3 separate regions of the Homo sapiens genome follow, and all the other regions are linked to region 1. Evidence: fine-mapped expression QTL. A gene starts in region 1. Each other region holds a variant in brackets. All regions are shown on one strand. Distances are between the middles of the regions.

Region 1 (6,828 bases):
GAACTATGTTAATCTCCCGTCTTTTCTCCTCTAAACCCTAGTACTAGAGATGTAAGCCTTGAAATGCTACTAAGGAACGTGCGGGTTTCACAATAGCAGGAGGCCATCTGAGAGGAGGACAAGACTCCACAGGCATGTTGGATTTGGGAAGCAGGGCTATAGTCATTCATTCATTCATCCAACACATAGTTATGTAATTCCTATGTGACAGGAACTATTTCAGGCATATAGGATACAGCAATGGCTTGCTCAATTTATTGAGACTTGTTTCGTGGCTCAGCATATAGTCTGTCTTGGTGAATGCTCCACATTCCCACCAACAGACTTATAAAGACAGTATTGTTTATTATCATCTCAAATTTACGGTGGAAAAAAATGAACCTTACATAGTTTAATTTCCTTTAGTCCTACCCAGCTACCAAGTAGCAACACTGGAATTTGAACTGAGATTTCTGACACCATAATCTGAGCTCTTAAGTTTCTCTTTTACACATAGAAAAGGAGAAACAAATTGTCTTTTCATCTTATCCATTTGACTGCAGGTAAAGTCAACAAGTTTCTAATCATGGGGTTCTGAAAATAATATTTACATTGCTCTGAGTCACGGGGATTTTCATCAAATAATATTCAATAGTGGATACTACTCAATACTACTGTGAGTTGCCAAGAAGGAATATTTGGTAAAAAATATAGTAATTAAATTTTGCTATAATTTATGATTATGTAACATGATTAAATTGAGCATGGCATCATTTAACATCCAACAAATTTTGTTTTGGTATTGAAGAATGATGTGTTTAAGTTTTAAGGCTGGATTTTCTTTCTAGACACTTTCAACTATGAAATATACACAATATTGGACAATAGTTAACCGTTCTTTTGATGTTGTTGTTTAGAAAATTAATCTCAAGCGAATAAAATAGAATTCATACAATTAATGAATCCTATTATTCCATATGGATGAACTCAGAACTAACTAGAAAGTAAGTTTCACAGAGATTTTTGAGTTTTGTTCACTCGTGTGTGTACAGATTAGGCACTCAGAAAATAGTTGAAGGAATGAATTGGGAAAGCAAATAGAATATGAAAGCCTTCTACCCAACACAACATGTCTTTGAGTTTAGGTTTAGGGTGGGAATAAGAAAAATAACATGATATGCATAAGTTATCTTAAAATGATAAAAAGTTTAATTTAAAAACCTAATTTACCAAGAGAACCGAAAACATATGTCCACACAAAAACTTGTACACAAATGTTCATAGTAACATTATTCATAACATCCCCAAAGGAGAAACAACCCAAATGTTCATCAACAGATGAATGATTAAACGAAATGTGATACATCGATACAATGGAATATTATTCAGTTATAAAAAGGAATGAAGTACCAATACATACTACATCATGGATGAACCTTTAAAATATTATGCTAAGTGAAAGAAGACAGACACAAAGGGCACATATTGTATTATCCATTCATATAAAATGTCCAGAATAGGCAAATTAATAGAGACAGAAAGTACATTAGTGGTTGCCGAGGGATGAGGGGAGAGGGGAAATGGGGAGTGACTATTAATGGGCATGGGGTTTCTTTTGGGGGCGATTAAAATGGAATTAGATGGTGGTGATGGTTGTACAATCTGGTGAGTATACTAAAACCCACTGAATTGTACGTGCCCTTTAAAAGGGTGAATTTTATGGTATGTGAACTCTCTTTTATAAAGTGGAAAAAAACTCCTAAGATCTCTTCAGAACATGTCAAAATACATTATAAAATAATAGACATGTGTTTACAAATCTGAGAGTATTAGGAAATGTTCCCTTGTTTAATTATAAACCAAATGGAATGTTTGGAGATTTCAGTAATCTGACAGGGAACATTAAGGGGATTAACCTGACTTCCCCAGTGTTAACAATACCAATTTAAACTGCATCATTCAAAAACTACATAGTCATATTAAAGCATTTGTAGCAATGACTTCCACGAAAAAAATACCAATTAAATTAATTACCCATTAAAGCTGCCATCATCTGAAATACCTCATATTTATATAGTGCTTTTACTTCCTCAAGTATGAATTGTGCCTTAAGATCTAATGTATGGGAGAGTCACATCTCTAACCATTTAATTAAAGGTAGAGAAGTGGGTGGGATTGGATAGAAATTTATTAGCAATGCTGACATTCCAGATTGGAACACAAAGACAAGCAGGATGTAAGAAACCTAAAAGTTCGCTTTCAATGCAGATAGTTAAATGCCAAGAACTATAATTGCCACATCCTGGAGTACAATTAAAAAATATGTTGAAAAACAACCAACATACATAAAAATATACACAGTGTTAAGTGCAGACTATGAAATTTCCCTTGGAAACAGAATCCAGATCAAGAAATAGAATACAGCACCCGGAACTAAGGTGCTTTTTCGTTTTCTTAAAAAAAAAAAAAAAGTAAACCAAGTTTATTTTGCTTTTTAAGTAGTGTTGTTCTTAAAGCACTACAGGTTGGTAAACAACGTATAAGGTGCTTTTTCTCAGGCCAAAGAGCCATAATAGTTTAAATTTCCCGGTCCTCAAGAGCGGACCGGGTGGGCAGGAGAGGACCCTGGGGTGGTGATGTGTAAACTGTATTATGCACTTTAGCCTGCTGGATGGCAACTAACACCTACAGTAGTTCACCCTCATTTTAACCCCTCTAAGTAATTGTCTCTTATTCTGAATCTAGAGATTCAGAAACAGCGCCAATGTTTACACACGACTTTTGAAATTTTCCCAGGAGTCTTTCGTTGGAGCAATACATCTAGATGCCTTTTTCCAGCAACAGTTTAATCAAATTCTGGAAGCAGAAAAGTGTCCTGTGAGGACGTGCCTTTCCTATCAAAGTGCTGAGTGCCTGGACCCTCTTTCCGGAGGAAACAGTCCCCTCTGGACCTCGTTCGGCCTCTCTCCATCAGACACCCCAAGGTTCCATCCGAAGCAGGCGGAGCACCGAACGCACCCCGGGGTGGTCAGGGACCCCCATCCGTGCTGCCCCCTAGGAGCCCGCGCCTCTCCTCTGCGCCCCGCCTCTCGGGCCGCAACGTCGCGCGGTTCCTTTAACAGCGCGCTGGCAGGGTGTGGGAAGCAGGACCGCGTCCTCCCGCCCCCTCCCATCCGAGTTTCAGGTGAATTGGTCACCGAGGGAGGAGGCCGACACACCACACCTACACTCCCGCGTCCACCTCTCCCTCCCTGCTTCCTCTGGCGGAGGCGGCAGGAACCGAGAGCCAGGTCCAGAGCGCCGAGGAGCCGGTCTAGGACGCAGCAGGTGGGACTCGCGGCGCTGGCCCGCAGGCTTCCCGCACCCCCTTCCACGTTGGTGCGCATGCCCGGGGGCAGGGCCGGTTGTAGGGAGGAGGGAAAGGAGAGGGAGAAGGGGGAGGAGACGTCCCCAGCCCAGTCCCCGGCTGAGCGCTGGCGGTCGGTGCGGCGTCAGGTGCGCCCGCCAGGTGAGCGCGCTCCCTGGCACCGTTGGCCCCCGGAGGGTCGGGCCCAGTTGCGGCGAGCGGGTGAGTGTTGGGCGCGGCGTCAGGGGCGCACGGGAGCCCGAGGGTCCCCGTGGGGGGACCGCGGCGACTATGTTAGGGGAGGTGCCGGGGGGAGGACGCTCCGCGCTGGTTTCGGTGGCAGTTTCGTCCCCGAGCTGGGACTCGTGGGAACCAGAGAGGCGCGGGTCTGCGGAGAGAGCAGCACCGGCCAACTTGGGAGGCTGCCTCCTGGGGCGAGGGGTGGCTTGGAGCCGCCGATCAAGCTTTATTCCGCGGAAACGCTGAAAGCTAGCAGTGCCTCAGCGGCGCGGGCAACTTTTCACTTTTATGGGGCACGACATTCCTGAACAGCGACGATCCTGCATCCGCTCTGGGGCTGCAGTTTGGGGGGGCGGCCTTCATGGAGAGGGATCCTGCGCCCAGCTCCTTGGGGGTCCTAAGCCTGAGGCTGCAGCGAGGCGGCTGTTCGGCGGCCCGGGCGGCTTAGATCCCGGGGGGAATTTCATTCCTTCCGCTCCCACCCCACCCCTTTGGATATCCCGGGGAGACGGGGGCTGGATTCAATCTGTGAAATATTCCAGGAGTCACGGTGTGGGCCACACTGGCTACTTCGAATCCACTTGTTGCGAGTTGTGTGAACCCGCGTCGATTTAAGCTGGGGGGCGGGGAGTTAATTTCGAGTGAGGCTGGACTTCGAGGGAAGCTGCTCACGCTTCGGATTCTCATCCGTGACCAAAAGGGCTGCCCCCAGGGGGGCGGAACTGCCTCCGGGCGGTGCCTGCCCGGCGAACGTGGGCGCGCGCTGCCTGGGAGCGCCTCGGTGCGCACGGAAGCCGGGACCCGCGCCCAGCCGGGCCACGGAGTTTGGGGACCTCCGGGACTGGGCCGGCCCCGCGCGCCAGCCATGTTGCCTGCGTCGGAGGAAGCGTGCGGGGAGCAGGGGTCGAGGGCCAAGATGGCCTCTGCGCCTAGGGGTTGGGAGCGGCGCCGAGCCCCTCGCGCTCCTCGGGAAGCCACCGGGCCCGAGGGAAAAGCCGCGGCATCCTTAGGCCGGACCCGGGGCTCGCTGGCCACACTGCCCGCTTGGGGAATTACCCTGCTCGAGGAGGAGGCGGCGGCTTTCCAGGCCAGTCAGTGTGTGGCCCTTAGGCAACAGGTGTATTATTGGGATACCTGGAAAAGAGAAACGTTTCCCATGAAGGCACTTATGGTGTTTTTTGGTGATTCTTGGTGTGATAGAAAACTAGGCGTTCCCAAGTGTAACAATAGTAACAGTAGTTCTTTTGCACTGTACATATGAGGTGCTTGTGTGTGTGTGTGTGTGTGTTTTTCCGAGACGGAGTCTGGCTCTGTCCCCCAGTGCAGTGGCATCATCTGGGCTCACTGCAACCTCTGCCTCCCGGGTTCAAGCGATTCTCCTGCTCAGCCTCCCGAATAGCTGGGATTACAGGCACCCACTAGTATGCACAGCTAATTTTTGTATTTTTAGTAGAGACAGGGTTTTGCCATTTGGTCAGGCTGGTCTCGAACTCCTGACCTCAGGTGATTCGCCCGCCTTGGCCTCCCAAAGTGCTGGGATTACAGGCGTAAGCCACCACACCCAGCCTTTATGAATATTTTCTTAGTGGTGCTTTAAAATAGACATCTTAAGTGTGTGTGGGAGGCAGAGATATTTCCTCAAACAAAGCAACACTTTTTTTTTGGTCGTTTTGCAATTTATTTAGTTATTAGGGGCCTCCTTTGTTAGGTGACGGAGCAGAGGATAGGGAGATCGGTAAGACATGATTCTCCACCTTTTGGCAGTTTCCAGGCCATTTCGGGAAATAGTGGGCAGCAGTGCCTCCTGCACGTGAGGCACTGTGGTAAAAGCATTCTGTATTTTCTCATTTAATTATCCCAACAACTCTAAAAGGCAGGCCTTAGTAGAACTCCATTTTAAAAGTGGGCAAATGCCGTGGGGGAAACGTTGCAGGTGGGCTTGCTTGCAAACTGCTTCAGCTAATATGGGAAGGAGTATCAGAAGCAGCGGTCCTTGATATTCCAGAACCAGATTTGGGGAATTTTTCTGGACTTTTCTACCATTGACTAGTAACTGTAGCCTGATACAAGATTTCCCGCATTTTGCTTGATATCAAGGTAAAATTCTTGTTTTCTTCTAAAGGTAGTGTTGGAATTACTACCTTTTCAAAATAGTATATTACTTTTAACCACATAAATGATCTGATGTAATATCTTTCATCTTCCTAGGAACCTCCCAGAAGGAAGTTTTCTTCAGTTGCATTTTAAGGCTTATTTGATTGGAATATTAATGGATCTTTTTCATCAAATTACTATTTATGGAAATAAGAGAGTAAACAGACCATGCAGATTTATGTTAGGCTTTTTGTTTTAACCCCTAGGCTTGCCGCTGTTCCGTAACCCAGTGATTCCAGTCTTGGCTGTGGTATGAATCACTTAGGGATCCTATTAAAACACAGATTCTGATTGGGAGGTCAGGAGTGGGGCCTGGGATTCTGCCTTTCTAACAGGCTCACAGGTGATTCTCAGACTGTTCTGTCTTCTTTTTCTCCCTTTCTCTTAGACTCTACGCACTTAATTACATTTGACAAACTGAAGTTGGAAAAAATAACGTTTATTGAGTGTTGTGTGAAGAACTTCAAGGCATTCACTGCTGGATTGAAATCCCAACTCTAATAATTGACTGTTGGTTTTATTAATTGAGTACTCATTGACAATCACTTTGTGCCAGGGCTAGTTCCAGCGACCAGGGATATAAATGATGGTCAAAATAGACATTTGATGTCTGGGATATGGGCATTCCAGATGCGGTGGAGATGATACCTATATTTTAGGTATGAGGGCAGAGGGGAGTTTGCTCTGAAAAAAAAAACAAGTTTTGTGTGATGGAGTGAGGGACAGGGAGGGCATCTCCCAGAAGGTGACGTCTGAGCTGAGACCTGAACAGCAGGTGTCTGTTGTGTAAAAGATCTGGGCTTTCTAGACAGGAAATTGCAAGATCAATGTCCTTTTTGGATTGACACCTTTATTGTAGACAGCAATTCTCAAAATATGTGATGTGTTTAAAAATCACCTGGAAGATTTATTAAAAATACAATTTCTGACACAGAGTCTATTACAAAATCTGCCTAACTTCAAATTTTTAGACAATTTACTAATGATGTGCCTGTAGTCTAAATCATTTAATATAAGGCACAACTTAAACTTTTTTTTTTTTTTTTGAGACAGAGTCTCGCTGTCTCCCAGGCTGGAGTGCAGTGGCACGATCTTGGCTTACTGCAAGC
Region 2 (6,965 bases), 23 kb after region 1:
AGTTTTGATGATGTCCAGTTTATTTAATTTTTCTTCTGTTGCTTGTATTTTTGGTGTCATATCTAATGCTTTGCCTAATTCAGGGTCACAAGGATTTACTCCTATGTTTTCTATTATTTAATTTTTCTATAGTTTCATAATTTTAGCTTTTACAGTTAGGTCTGTGATTCATGTTGTGTTAATTTTGGGCATGATGGAAGCAAGGGTTCTGAAAGCTTTCGCATGTTTATATGCAGTTGTCTCAGTGTTACTTGTTGAAAGGACTGTTCCTCCACTAAGTTTTCTTCATGCCTTTGTCAAAAATGAATTGATCATAAATGTGGACATTTATTTCTGGGCTCTCAGTTCAGCTGCATTAATCATATGTCCTAATGCCAGTACCATACTGTCTTGATTACTGTAACTTTATAGTAAGTTTTGAAATTGTGGAGTGGGAGTTCTCCAACTTTGTTCTTCAAGACTGTTTTGGCTAGATTCTGGATTCCTTGCATTTCCATATGGATTTTAAGATCAGCATGTCAATTTTGGAAAAAAATGCCAGCTAGGATTTTGAAGGGTTATATTGAATCTGTAGGTCAATTTTGGATGTATTGTCATCTTTACAATTACAAGTCTTCTGATTCATGAACGTAAGATTCTTTTGATTTATGTAGGTCTTGTTAAACTTCTTTTAATAGTGTTTTATAGTTTTCAGAGTGTAAGTTAGTATGTTTAAAAGCTAAGCAAGTGATTCAAATGTGCAGGTTGGAGTTGAGAAACCTACTTTAGTAACCATGAGTCATACTGATTATATTAATATCTGAAATGTTTCTGAGTTACTGATCTTTTTTCCCTTGTTTTTCCTTTTTTCTTACACTAACTCAGGAGTTCCCATTCCTGAATGAGTCACTCCTTTGGAGTTAGACCTCTAGTATCTGTCTACCATTATTTAGAAGACTGAAGGTTTTCCCTGCAGACGTAGGTTTTCACAGTGCTCGTTGTTGCCATTTAGACATGTCCATGGTAGATAGGGACTGAGGGTTGGTACTCCTATCCTACCACACCCCTATCCCTCTTAGTTCTCTTACTACTTACTCTTTGAAAAATGATGTCACTGTCAAGACAGCTGGAAGGAGAGCCTCTTGTTCCCATTAGCAGACATCCAGGGTAGAGGCCTGATATTTCCCTCAACTTCAAGTGCCTCCCAGGCCAATATACCATTTAATATCCTATCACCACTGGGAGAACTGTTAAGAGTAGGAAGTTTCTTTGTTACAGGGCCCTTTCTAGTAGTATGCAAGACTCCTGAAACAGAGAAACCTGCCAGACCAAATCAATCATTAGTCAATTTGCTATTTATAGCTTGATTAGATCCATGTCTTCATCATTTTTGGTAAGATAGAGATCTATGGACAGAAATTTACATTCAGTGTAAAAAGGCTTGCCAAGCATATGTTTTGAACAAGATTACAAGCATGATTGGCTATTTCAAAGCTGTGAATACTTTTGAGAGTAGCATTTTTCAGGCCCTTTAGAAGTATACCAATGATTGAGTTACTTTACTGGCCATTCTCGTAGGTGCACAAAGCTTGGCCCGTAGGTGTACAAGCTTTGGAACTAGTTTTTTACAGCTCTGAAATGAGGGTGATGATTGATAGTTCCTAACATTAGGCATTTTCTGAGGATTGAGTCAAGCAGTATGTACGTGTGTGTACATTTGCTGGCCTTAGCCCAGTTAGTGTGGGTTAGGTTTTATGATATGTCTGAAATGTAACTATTTGCTTCAGTTTTCTATCAATTAAACCACATGGATTTAGTAGGGCCTTAGGGTAGATAAGGGTTTTAATAATATGTAGAGGGTGAATTGTGATTAAGCAATTAAAATCTAATTATGCCAATATTTTCCACTCCTTTTTAGGCCATTGCCATTGTACTGGGGTTCATGATTATTGTGGCTTTTGCTTTAATAATTTTCTTTGCTGTGAAAACTCGAAGAAAGATGGACAGGTATGACAAGTCCAATATTTTGTGGGACAAGGAACACATTTATGATGAGCAGCCCCCCAATGTCGAGGAGTGGGTAAGTGTTAAAAAATAACTTTACATCTTTTATTAAAGCCCCAAATTTGTGTCTGAATTTTTAGTGCTTTGTTAAACTTTATTCTTAGAATTAATGTTTGTATATGTTGCAAAGGTTGTTGCATTGGTTTTTACTCAGAATTTTAAGAGGATGGGCTAAGTGGAAATGGTTTTACTAAAAGGTGAAAATCAGATTTCCATTTTCAAGGAGTGAATCTTGGTTTTGAAAAGAAATGGCTTCTAAAAAAATCATGCAGAAAGAACTTGGCCTTTGCAAAACAAAAACTACTTCTTCCCTCTACTCCCTTTTATTTTTCTGCTTATCATTTTGGAGATAAACAGAAACCATTGCCAAAGGTGCTCTCGTGGGTCAAGATTGGCAAGAGTGTTTTTGGAATAGCAGGTGGCAGGCCTTTTAAACTTTTTTTTTTTTTTATTGATCATTCTTGGGTGTTTCTCACAGAGGGGGATTTGGCAGGGTCATAGGACAATAGTGGAGGGAGGGTCAGCAGATAAACAAGTGAACAAAGGTCTCTGGTTTTCCTATGCAGAGGACCCTGCGGCCTTCTGCAGTGTTTGTGTCCCTGGGTACTTGAGATTAGGGAGTGGTGATGACTCTTAACGAGCATACTGCCTTCAAGCATCTGTTTAACAAAGCACATCTTGCACCACTCTTAATCCATTTAACCCTGAGTGGACACAGCACATGTTTCAGAGAGCACAGGGTTGGGGGTAGGGTCACCGATCAACAGGATCACAAGGCAGAAGAATTTTTCTTAGTACAGAACAAAATGAAAAGTCTCCCGTGTCTACCACTTTCTACACAGACATGGCAACCATCCGATTTCTCAATCCTTTCCCCGCCTTTCCCCCCTTTCTATTCCACAAAACCGCCATTGTCATCATGGCCCTTTCTCAATGAGCTGTTGGGTACACCTCCCAGACGGGGTGGTGGCTGGGCAGAGGGGCTCCTCACTTCCCAGTAGGGGCGGCCGGGCAGAGGCGCCCCTCACCTCCTGGACCGGGCGGCTGGCCGGGCGGGGGGCTGACCCCCCCACCTCCCTCCCGGACGGGGCGGCTGGCCGGGCAGAGGGGCTCCTCACTTCCCAGTAGGGGCGGCCGGGCAGAGGCGCCCCTAACCTCCCGGATGGGGCGGCTGGCCGGGCGGGGGGCTGACCCCCCCACCTCCTTCCCGGATGGGGCGGCTGGCCGGGCAGAGGGGCTCCTCACTTCCCAGTAGGGGCGGCCGGGCAGAGGGGCCCCTCACCTCCCAGACAGGGCGGCTGGCCGGGCAGGGGGCTGACCCCCCTACCTCCCTCCCAGACGGGGCGGCTGGCCGGGCAGAGGGGCTCCTCACTTCCCAGTAGGGGCGGCCGGGCAGAGGCGCCCCTCACCTCCCGGACGGGGCGGCTGGCCGGGCGGGGGGCTGACCCCCCCCCACCTCCCTCCCGGACGGGGCGGCTGGCCGGGCGGGGGGCTGACCCCCCCACCTCCCTCCCGGACGGGGCGGCTGGCCGGGCGGGGGGCTGACCCCCCCACCTCCCTCCCGGATGGGGTAGCTGCCGGGCAGAGACGCTCCTCACTTCCCAGACAGAGTGGCTGCCGGGCGGAGGGGCTCCTCACTTCTCATATGGGGCGGTTGCCAGGCGGAGGGTCTCCTCACTTCTCAGACGGGGCGGCTGGGCAGAGACGCTCCTCACCTCCCAGACGGGGTCGCGGCTGGGTAGAGGCGCTCCTCACATCCCAGACGGGGTGGCGGGGCAGAGGCGCTCCCCACATCTTAGACGATGGGCGGCCGGGCAGAGACGCTCCTCACTTCCTAGATGGCATGGGGGCCGGGAAGAGGCGCTCCTCACTTCCTAGATGGGATGGCGGCCGGGCAGAGACGCTCCTCACTTTCCAGACTGGGTAGCCAGGCAGAGGGGCTCCTCACGTCCCAGACGATGGGCGGCCAGGCAGAGACGCTCCTCACTTCCCAGACGGGGTGGCGGCCGGGCAGAGGCTGCAATCTTGGCACTTTGGGAGGCCAAGGCAGGCGGCTGGGAGGTGGAGGTTGTAGCGAGCCGAGATCACGCCACTGCACTCCAGCCTGGGCACCATTGAGCACTGAGTGAACCAGACTCCGTCTGCAATCCCGGCACCTTGGGAGGCCGAGGCTGGCGGATCAGTCGCAGTTCGGAGCTGGAGACCAGCCCGGCCAACACAGCGAAACCCCGTCTCCACCAAAAAAAT[A/T]AGAAAACCAGTCAGGCGTGGTGGCGCGCGCCTGCAATCGCAGGCACTCGGCAGGCTGAGGCAGGAGAATCAGGCAGGGAGGCTGCAGTGAGCCGAGATGGCAGCAGTACAGTCCAGCTTCGGCTCGGCATCAGTGGGAGACCGTGGAAAGAGAGGGAGAGGGAGACCGTGGGGAGAGGGAGAGGGGGGAGAGGGAGAGGGCAAAACTTTTGACATAGATAACAGCATGACAAACCACAGTGACTAATTCTGAGTTAACATTATGAAATACTTCAGTGAGGCAAAGACAGATTAGAAAAATTTCCTTTTAAAAATATATACTATTAATCTTACCAAGCTTCCTATATGATGTGATTTGCTGAAAGCCTGGAAAGTTCCTCTTTAAAGATGCCTCCCAAATGAGTGTTAGTAAACTGTTTTTAGAGCTTTTTAGAGGCCAGGTGTGGTGGCTCACACTTGGAATCCCAGCACTTAGGGAGGCCAAGGTGGAAGGATCACTTGAGTCCAGGAGTTTGAGAACAACCTAGGCAACATAATGGGACCCTGTCTCTACAAAAAATAAAAAAAAAATTAGCTGGGCATGATGATGTATGCCTGTAGTCCCAGCTACTCAGGAGGCTGAGGTGATAGAATCACTGGAGCATGGGAGGTTGAAGCTGCAGTGAGCTGTTATTCTGCCACTGGCACTCTTGCCTGGATGGCAGAGTGAGACCCTGTCTCGGAAAAAAATAAAAATGAAAAGATGTTTGGAGTGAAACTTTTTCTAAGAAATCCTGTTAGGGTCCTGTTAGAAGCTACCTCAGAAACTGACATCACAGGGTTCTTTGAGCAGATTGATTTATTGTCATGAAGGTATGGCCACAGGTTCCCAGGAAGGTTTATTTTGGCCACTGGGAGTGGGGTGGCTAAAGATGGATGCTGGCTGCTGCTAGTCAGGTCTGGGGTAAAGACATTAATATATATATATATATATATTTTTTTTTTTTTTGAGACGGCTTCTGGCTCTGTCGTTCAGGCTGGAGTACAGTGGTGCAATATTGGCTCACTGCAACCTCCGCCTCCCGGGTTCAAGAGATTCTCCTGCCTTGGCCTCCCGAGTAGCTAGGACTATAGGTGCATACCACCATGCCTGACTAATTTTTTTGTATTTTTAGGAGAGATGGGGTTTCACCACGTTGGCCAGGCTGGTCTCGAACTCCTGACCTCAAGTGATCTGCCTGCCTTGGCCTCCCAAAGTGCTGGGATTATAGGCAAGACAATATCTTGAAGGCTTAGCTCTAACATTCTGTAAGTCTGATTTTTAAGGAAATCTAGGAAGATAGATGAAATTTTTTTCTGGTTAATTAAGGAGCAAAAATGAAGCAGTCTTAGGAAAGCCAGGAAGGCTGTGGTATGTATTCACCACTGAGACGATAGTTCTTATGTCCCTGCCCTTGACTTGAAGCCCTGTTTTTTTTTTCCCTCACTTTAAAGTGTGAAGGTGTTAGGAAGTGTTTTCTTTCGACATTTACCTCCAGGCAAGGCCACTTGTAGCTGGAATAGGACAGGTCTATATTATGAGCTATGAAGTAAATGTTTCGCTGAGAGTTTCTGGGTGTGTTAGTTTTCGTTGGCAGTTAGATTTGTTTACTTAAGGTTTCAAGAGGCTTAAAAACAACAAACCCGACTCAAGGGAGACCAATGCCAGTAATATTAGAGTCCCAGTGAACTTTGGCCTCTCATCTGATTTTACTGTCATGAAGGTTTAATCAGTTCTAGTTGCTTTTGATAATTTGGCAAAAGATAGCTGTTGTAACTTATGGAGGTGATGATGATTAAGGTGAAAGAACTACTTAGCTTTTAAGAAGGTATTATTTTAATAAAATTCCTCCTTGAACCTCTGGAAATTTGATAGCCTGTGGGTTGTTGCATGTGGACTTCATTGTTTCTCTCTAGTAACAAGTATTTTCATTGTATGTAAAAGAATTGTCTGTTGAATAGCAGATATATGATTTTGCCCAAACTAATGTTTTATGTGATTCTTAACCAGAGGCAAATTCCTCATTTCTTTTCCTCTGCCCTTCAGTTTTTTGAACTGAAATGCCTCAGAAAGCCTATTTAAAATAAATTATTTGGAGGTGGTTTAACCACAGATATTTTGCCTTTCTTTCTATTCTCCCCTCACCTGCCCAAGTTCATGTCGCGGAATTCAATACCACGTTCTCATTATTTCCTTAATTGATGGAACAGGCAGATGTAGCCTGTTACTCTCATTTCTGCCTGATTAGTTTCACCCTGATAATGTGGCCATCGCTGTGGAATTGTGTCATCCTGCATCTAAACTGTTCACAGTGGAGTAGATTAGGGAGTTTTCTTCCTTTTGGTCATGAGAAATTAATATCAAAACAATCTCTACTTAAAATAGTGGATGAGAATCTAGAATTAACTACTTGCACTAAAGGAGAATTAAAATTTGGGTTTGATTGATTGCAAAGAGCTGAGACAGGTTACTCCCCATATAGCTAATAATGGCTGATTCGGGGGGAAAAGAAAAACTCATGTCTGTAATCCCAGTACTTGCGAGGCCAAGGAGGATCACTTGAGCCCAGGAGTTTAAGACCATCTGGGGCAAGAAGGCAAGACCCTATCTCTACAAAAAATTTAAAAAATTAGCCGGACGTGGGCACAGGTGCCTG
Region 3 (6,965 bases), 29 kb before region 1:
AGTTCGAGACCAGCCTGGTGGTGGGCGCCTGTCATTCTAGCTACTCAGGAGGCTGAGGAAGGAGAATCTCTTGAACCCAGGAGGCAGAGGTTGCAGTGAGCTGAGATCACATCACTGAACTCCAGTCTGGGAGACAGAGCAAGAGTCCGTCTCAAAAAAAAAAAAAAAAAGAATAACAAACTAACACATCTTGAAGTCGAATTCCTTGAAAATTATGGCCTAGAAAGCCTACTTGGCTGGGCCTGATGCTCACGCCTATAATCCCAGCACTTTGGAAGCCGAGGCAGGTGGATCACCTGAGGTCAGGAGTTTGAGACCAGCCTGACCAACATGGAGAAACCCCATCTCTATAAAAATACAAAAATTAACTGGGCGTGGTGGCACGCACCTGTAATCCCAGCTACTCAGGAGGCTGAGGCGGGAGAATCGCTTAAACCTGGGAGGCGGAGGTTGCAGTGAGCCGAGATCATGCTATTGTACTCCAGACTGGGCAACAGAGCGAGACTCCGTGTCAAAAAAAAAATGCTCATGCAAATGAGCATCACAAAAATTATACAGTTGGCTAAAGGAAACACCAAATTGATAATAATGAAGCTAAACTAATAATTGACATTTTAAAGGAAAGACTAAGCCAAGCTAATACCTAACGAGCTGTCTGAGTCAACACATAAAGTACTGATAACATACCTATCTAACTAGAAAATTGAGGAATCCCAAGGATGTAGGTATTTGCATAGTGGGAGCTTCACATAGTTACCAGCAATTCAACTTTTCAACTTTTCTTTCCTTTTTTTGAGACGGTGTCTCACTCTGTTGCCCAGACTGGAGTGCAGTGGCATGATCTCAGCTCACTGTAACCTCCACCTCCTAGGTTCAAGCAATTCTCCTGCCTCAGCCTCCCGAGTAGCTGGGATTCCAGGCGCCCGCCACCACACCCGGCTAATTTTTGTATTTTTAGTAGAGACAGGGTTTCACCATGTTGGTCAGGCTGGTCTTGAACTTCTGACCTCAAGTGATCTGCCCACCTCGGCCTCCCAAAGTGCTAGGATTTCAGGCATGAGCCACCACACCCGGCCAGCTCAACTTTTCAGTACAATGCCAAATCAATTCCTCTGTCAACTTAAGTGCTAATACCCCAGGGTTTTAGTTTTTGTTTTTGTCTTAGAAACGGGGTCTTACTATGTTGTCCAGGCTGGTCTTGAACTCCTGGGCTCAAGTGATCTTCCCAGCTTGGCCTCCCAAAGTGCTGGGATTGCAGGCATGAGCCACCACAGCCGGCCTAATACCCTAGGTGTTGGATAGCAAAGACATGTTATCCTTAGTAACTCCTGAAGAAAGTTACTAGGAGTCCTTAGTGCAATATAAAAATTTACTTACAGAAAAGAAAAAACTGCTGCATTGGTTCATAAGAACCAAGGAAAGCACTTCCAATTTGGAATCAGTGGGCTGCCCCTTGGGAGGTGCACTCGGAGAACATAAAGCTAACCCCGAGAAGGATGAGGGAGGTGCGTCCTCCAAGATTTTGAAATCTGAGTGTACAATGTGAGGAGAGGGAGCAGAGGTTGTAAGAGGAGAGGGATGACTCCACAGATCCTTTGAGAGAGAGGAAAGTGATCTACATTTTCTCAGCAAAAGCAGAGCTATCTTCAGCCAAGTTAGAAAGACTGTGAGGACCAGGGCAGTTTGAGATTTATGAAGTGCCCTTTAAAATTTTTAATTTTTTTAAATTTTTATTTATTTATTTATTAAAATTTAAAATTAAACAATTTAAAAACTTTTAAATTTTAAAAATTTAAAAAGTATTTTTGGCTCTTGAGGAATTTTCTGCTGCATTAAAGACAAGGGAATATTTACATTTAAATAACAACTCAAGAAATACTAAGGCAGGGCACAGTGGCTCACATCTGTAATTCCTGCATTTATGGGAGGCCAAGGCAGGAGTTTCGCTTGAGCCAAGAGCTTGAGACCAGTGTGGACAACAGAGCAAGACCTGGCTCTACAAAAAATGTTTTAAAAATATTAGCCAGAGGCCGGGCGCAGTGGCTCACGCCTGTAATCCCAGCACTTTGGGAGGCTGAGGCGGGTAGATCACAAGGTCAGGAGTTCAAGACCAGCCTGACCAACATGGTGGAACCCCATCTCTACTAAAAATACAAAAATTAGCTGGGCGTGGTGGCGTGCACCTGTAATCCCAGCTACTTGGGAAGCTGAGACAGAAAAATCGCTTGAACCCGGGAGGCGGAGGTTGCAGTGAGCCGAGATGGCACCACTGCACTCCAGCCTGGGCAACAAAGCAAGACTCCATCTCAAAAATATATATATATATGAAATATATAATATATATAATATATTATATGAATATATAATATATATATTATATGAAATATATAATATATATATTATATGAATATATAATACATATACTATATTATATGAAATATATAATACATATACTATATTATATGAATATATAATACATATACTGTATTATATGAATATATAATACATATACTGTATTATATGAATATATAATACATATACTGTATTATATGAATATATAATACATATACTGTATTATATGAATATATAATACATATACTATATGAATATATAATACATATACTATATTATATGAATATATAATACATATACTATATTATATGAATATATAATACATATACTATATTATATGAATATATAATACATATACTATATTATATGAATATATAATACATATACTATATTATATGAATATATAATACATATACTATATTATATGAATATATAATACATATACTATATTATATGAATATATAATACATATACTATATTATATGAATATATAATACATATACTATAGTATATGAATATATAATACATATACTATAGTATATGAATATATAATACATATACTATAGTATATGTATATAATACATATACTATAGTATATGTATTATATATTCATATAATATATTATATATATATTCATATAATATATTATATGTATATAATACATATATTATATGTATATAATACATATATTATATGTATATAATACATATATTAGATGTATATAATACATATATTAGATGTATATAATACATATATTAGATGTATATAATACATATATTAGATGTATATAATACATATATTAGATGTATATAATACATCTAATATATTAGATGTATATAATACATATAATATATTAGATGTATATAATACATATAATATATTAGATGTATATATTAGCCAGATGTGGTGGAGCAAGCCTGTAGTCCCAGCTACTCTGGAGGCTGAGGCAGGAGGCAGAAGGATCACTTGAGCCCAGGAGTTCCAGGTTGCAGTGAGCCATGATCTCACCACTGCCCTCCAGCCTGGGCAACAGAGCAAGATCCTGTGAAAGAAAGAGAGAAAGAGAGAGAGAGACAGAATGAGAAAGAGAAGGAAGTACTATACTTTTACATGTATATAGTCCTTAGTCCTTATCATTTTTTTTTTTTTAAGATGGAGTCTTGCTCTGTCACCCAGGCTGGAGTGCAGTGGCACAATCTCGGCTCACTGCAACCTCCACCTCCCAGTTTCAAGTGATTCTCCTGCCTCAGCCTCCCGAGTAGCTGGGACTACAGTTGCCCACCACCATGCCTGGCTAAGTTTTTGTATTTTTAGTAGAGACGAGGTTTCACCATGTTGGTCAGGATGGTCT[C/T]GATCTCTTGACCTCGTGGTCCACCCGGCTTGGCCTCCCAAAGTGCTGGGATTACAGGCGTGAGCCACCGCTCCCGGCCCTATCCTTTCTTAAATACTTTCACATAACTCATCTCAGGATTGACAGACCTTGATAGCGCCTTAAATCCTGGAGAGAGAGAATTCTGAAGAGGCTACAATAGGATGGAATAGTCAGAACATTTTTGAAAAAAAACAGGTAAGACTGCAACCAGGCATGGTGGTTCATGCCTGTAATACCAGCATTTTGGGAGAACAAGGCGGGAGGATCACTGTAACCCAGGAGTTCAAGGCTGTGGTGAGCTATGATCACACCACGGCCCTCTAGCCTGGGTGACAGAGTCAGACTCCGTCTCTAAAAAAATAAAAATAAGGCCAAGGCGGGCGGATCATCTGAGGTCGGGAGTTCAAGACCAGCCTGACCAACATGGAGAAACCCTGTCTCTACTAAAAATACAAAATTAGCTGGGTGTGGTGACGCATGCCTGTAATCCCAGCTACTCGGGAGGCTGAGGCAGGAGAATTGCTTGAACCCGGGAGGCAGAGGTTGCGGTGAGCCGAGATCACGCCATTGCACTCCAGCTTGGGCAACAAGAGCATAACTCTGTCTCAAAAATAAATAAATATTAAAAAATAAAAATAGGCCGGGGTGCAGTGGCTCACGCCTGTAATCTCAGCACTTTGGGAGGCCAAGGTGGGTGGATCACGTGAGGTCAAGAGTTCAAGACCAGCCTTCCCAACATGGTGAAACCCTGTCTCTACTAAAAATACAAAAATTAGCCAGGTGTGGTGGCGTGCCCCTGTAATCCCAGCTACTCAGGTAGCTTAGGTGGGAGAATTGCTTGAACCCAGGAGGTGGAGGCTGCAGTGATCCGAGATCTTGCCGCTGCACTCCAGCCTGGGTGACAGAGCAAGACCCCATCAAAAAATAATAATAAATAATAATAAATAAAAATAAAGGTAAACAAATATCTCATTTAAGTTTACTCTGTTACCTAATATATTAGAAAGTCTTATCTTAAAGTTTTGTTGTCTTGAATCTTTTCTGTGGGGTCATAATTAAAATAAATCTTCCAACCCCTAAGTAAGTTCATATCTCCTATTGTTCAGGTAAGATAATTTTGAAGTCAACAGATTGTTGCTCTCTTACCTGACACAGCTGGGATCAGTAATTAGAATGTCAATTCAAAAAAGTAGATTAAAGCTAAACATCAAAAAGTGACATATGGGTGCCATAGTTTGTCTTAATTTTTTTTCATTTTTCATTTTTCATTAATTAATTTTTTTTAGAGACAGAGTCTCGCTCTGTTACCCAGGTTGGAGTGCAGTGGTGTGAACACGGCTCACTGCAGCCTTGACCTTGTGGGATTAAGTGATCCTCCCACCTCAGGATCCTGAGTAGCTAGGACCACAGGTGTGTGCCACCACGCCTGGCTAATTTTTAATTTTTTCATAGAGAGGGGGTCTTGCCATGCTGCCCAGGCTGGTCTCAAACTCCTGGGCTCACAGGATCCTCCAGCCTCAGCCTCCGAAAGTGTTGGGATTACAGGCGTGAGCCACCCTACCTAGCCAACATTTTTTTTTTCTAAAGCAACATCATTATGAGTCTTTTAACAATTAACTTGATTTTTATAGAAATACCTTTTTGTTTGTTTGTTTGTTTGTTTGGGACAGAGTCTCACTACGTCGCCCAGGCTGGAGTGCAATGGTGCGATCATAGCTCACTGTAACCTCTCCCTCCCAGGTTCAAAAGATTCTCCTGCTTCAGCTTCCTGAGTAGCTGGAATTACAGGTGCATGCCACCACACCTGACTAATTTTTGTATTTTTAGTAGAGACAGGATTTCATCATGTTGGCCTGGCTTGTCTCAAACTCCTGACCTCGTGATGCACCCACCTCCACCTCCCAAAGTGCTGGGATTACAGACATGAGCCACCGTGCCCAGCCTAGAAACACCTTTCTGTTGGGGTCATCATATTTTATTTTATGTTATTTGTGTGGTTTTTGTTTGTTTGTTTTTATGGCAGGGTCTCACTCTGTAGCCCAGGCTGGAATGCAGTGGCATTGAGAATTGAAGCCAGCTGGGCTTCTGGGTTGGGTGGGAACTTGGAGAACTTTTCTGTCTAGCTAGAGGATTGTAAACACACCAATCAGCACTCTGTGTCTAGCTAAAGGTTTGTAAACACACCAATCAGTACTCTAAATATGCACCAATCAGCGCTCTGTGTCTAGCTAAAGGTTTGTAAATGCACCAATCAACACTCTGTAAAAATGCACCAATCAGTGCTCTGTGACTAGCTAAAGGTTTGTAAACACACCAATCAGCACTCTGTAAAAATGGACCAATCAGCACTCTGTAAAATGGACCAATTAGCACTCTGTAAAATGGACCAATCAGCAGGACGTTGGCAGGGCCAAATAAGGGAATAAAAGCTGGCCACCGGAGCCAGCAGCAGCAACCAGTTCGGGTCCCCTTCCAGGCTGTGGAAGGTTTGTTCTTTTGCTCTTCACAATAAATCTTGCTGCTGCTCCCTCTGGGTCCGCACTACCTTTATGAGTTGTAACACTCACTGCGAAGGTCTGCAGCTTTGCTCCTGAAATCAGTGAGACCACGAACCCACCGGGAGGAACAAACAACGCTGGATGCGCCACATTTAAGAGCTGTAACACTCACTGCGAAGGTCTGCAGCTTCACTCCTGAAGTCAAGCTAGACCACGAGCCCACCGGAAGGAAGAAACTCTGGACATATCTGAACATCTGAAGGAACAAACTCCGGACACACTACGTGTAAGAACTGTAACACTCACCACGAGGGTCTGCAGCTTCATTCTTGAAGTTAGCGAGACCAAGAATCCACCGTAAGGAACCAATTCCGGACACAGCATGATCTCAGCTCACTGCAACCTCCACTTCCCAGGTTCAAGTGATTCTCCTGCCTCAGCCTCCTGAGTAGCTGGGTTTACAGGTGCATACGATCATGCCTGACTAATTTTTGTGTTTTTGGTAGAGACGGGGTTTCACCATGTTGGCCAGGCTGGTTTTGAACTGCTGACCTCAGGTGATCCACCCACTTTGGCCTATCCAAGTACTGGGATTATAGGCCTGAGCCACAGCAGCTGGCCCGCATCATATTTTATCATTTAAATAATATTTAATTAAATCATACACATACGTACACACATGTAGTAGCAAGTACAAGTGGGAATAACAGGTTTAGGTACAACACAACTATTGCTAACCACCC

Evidence for each region. PIP is the estimated chance that this variant, and not a neighbour inherited with it, causes the effect.
Region 2: its variant is fine-mapped to the expression of OCLN in whole blood (TOPMed, PIP above 0.99).
Region 3: its variant is fine-mapped to the expression of OCLN in whole blood (TOPMed, PIP above 0.99).

The regions. Positions count from the first base shown.
Region 1 is chr5:69,489,354-69,496,181 of GRCh38, forward strand. It overlaps OCLN (occludin), which reads left to right and starts at 3,437. Exons shown (of 9, transcript NM_001205254.2): 1 at 3,437-3,547.
Region 2 is chr5:69,512,051-69,519,015 of GRCh38, forward strand. It overlaps OCLN (occludin), which reads left to right. Exons shown (of 9, transcript NM_001205254.2): 4 at 1,898-2,059. Among named protein-coding and RNA genes, the nearest start is that of OCLN, 23 kb to the left of the region's middle. RefSeq lists an enhancer at 5,061-5,942. The variant A/T (reference allele first, on the strand shown) is at 4,291.
Region 3 is chr5:69,460,609-69,467,573 of GRCh38, forward strand. No RefSeq gene overlaps it. Among named protein-coding and RNA genes, the nearest start is that of OCLN, 29 kb to the right of the region's middle. RefSeq lists a silencer at 1,972-2,140. The variant C/T (reference allele first, on the strand shown) is at 3,704.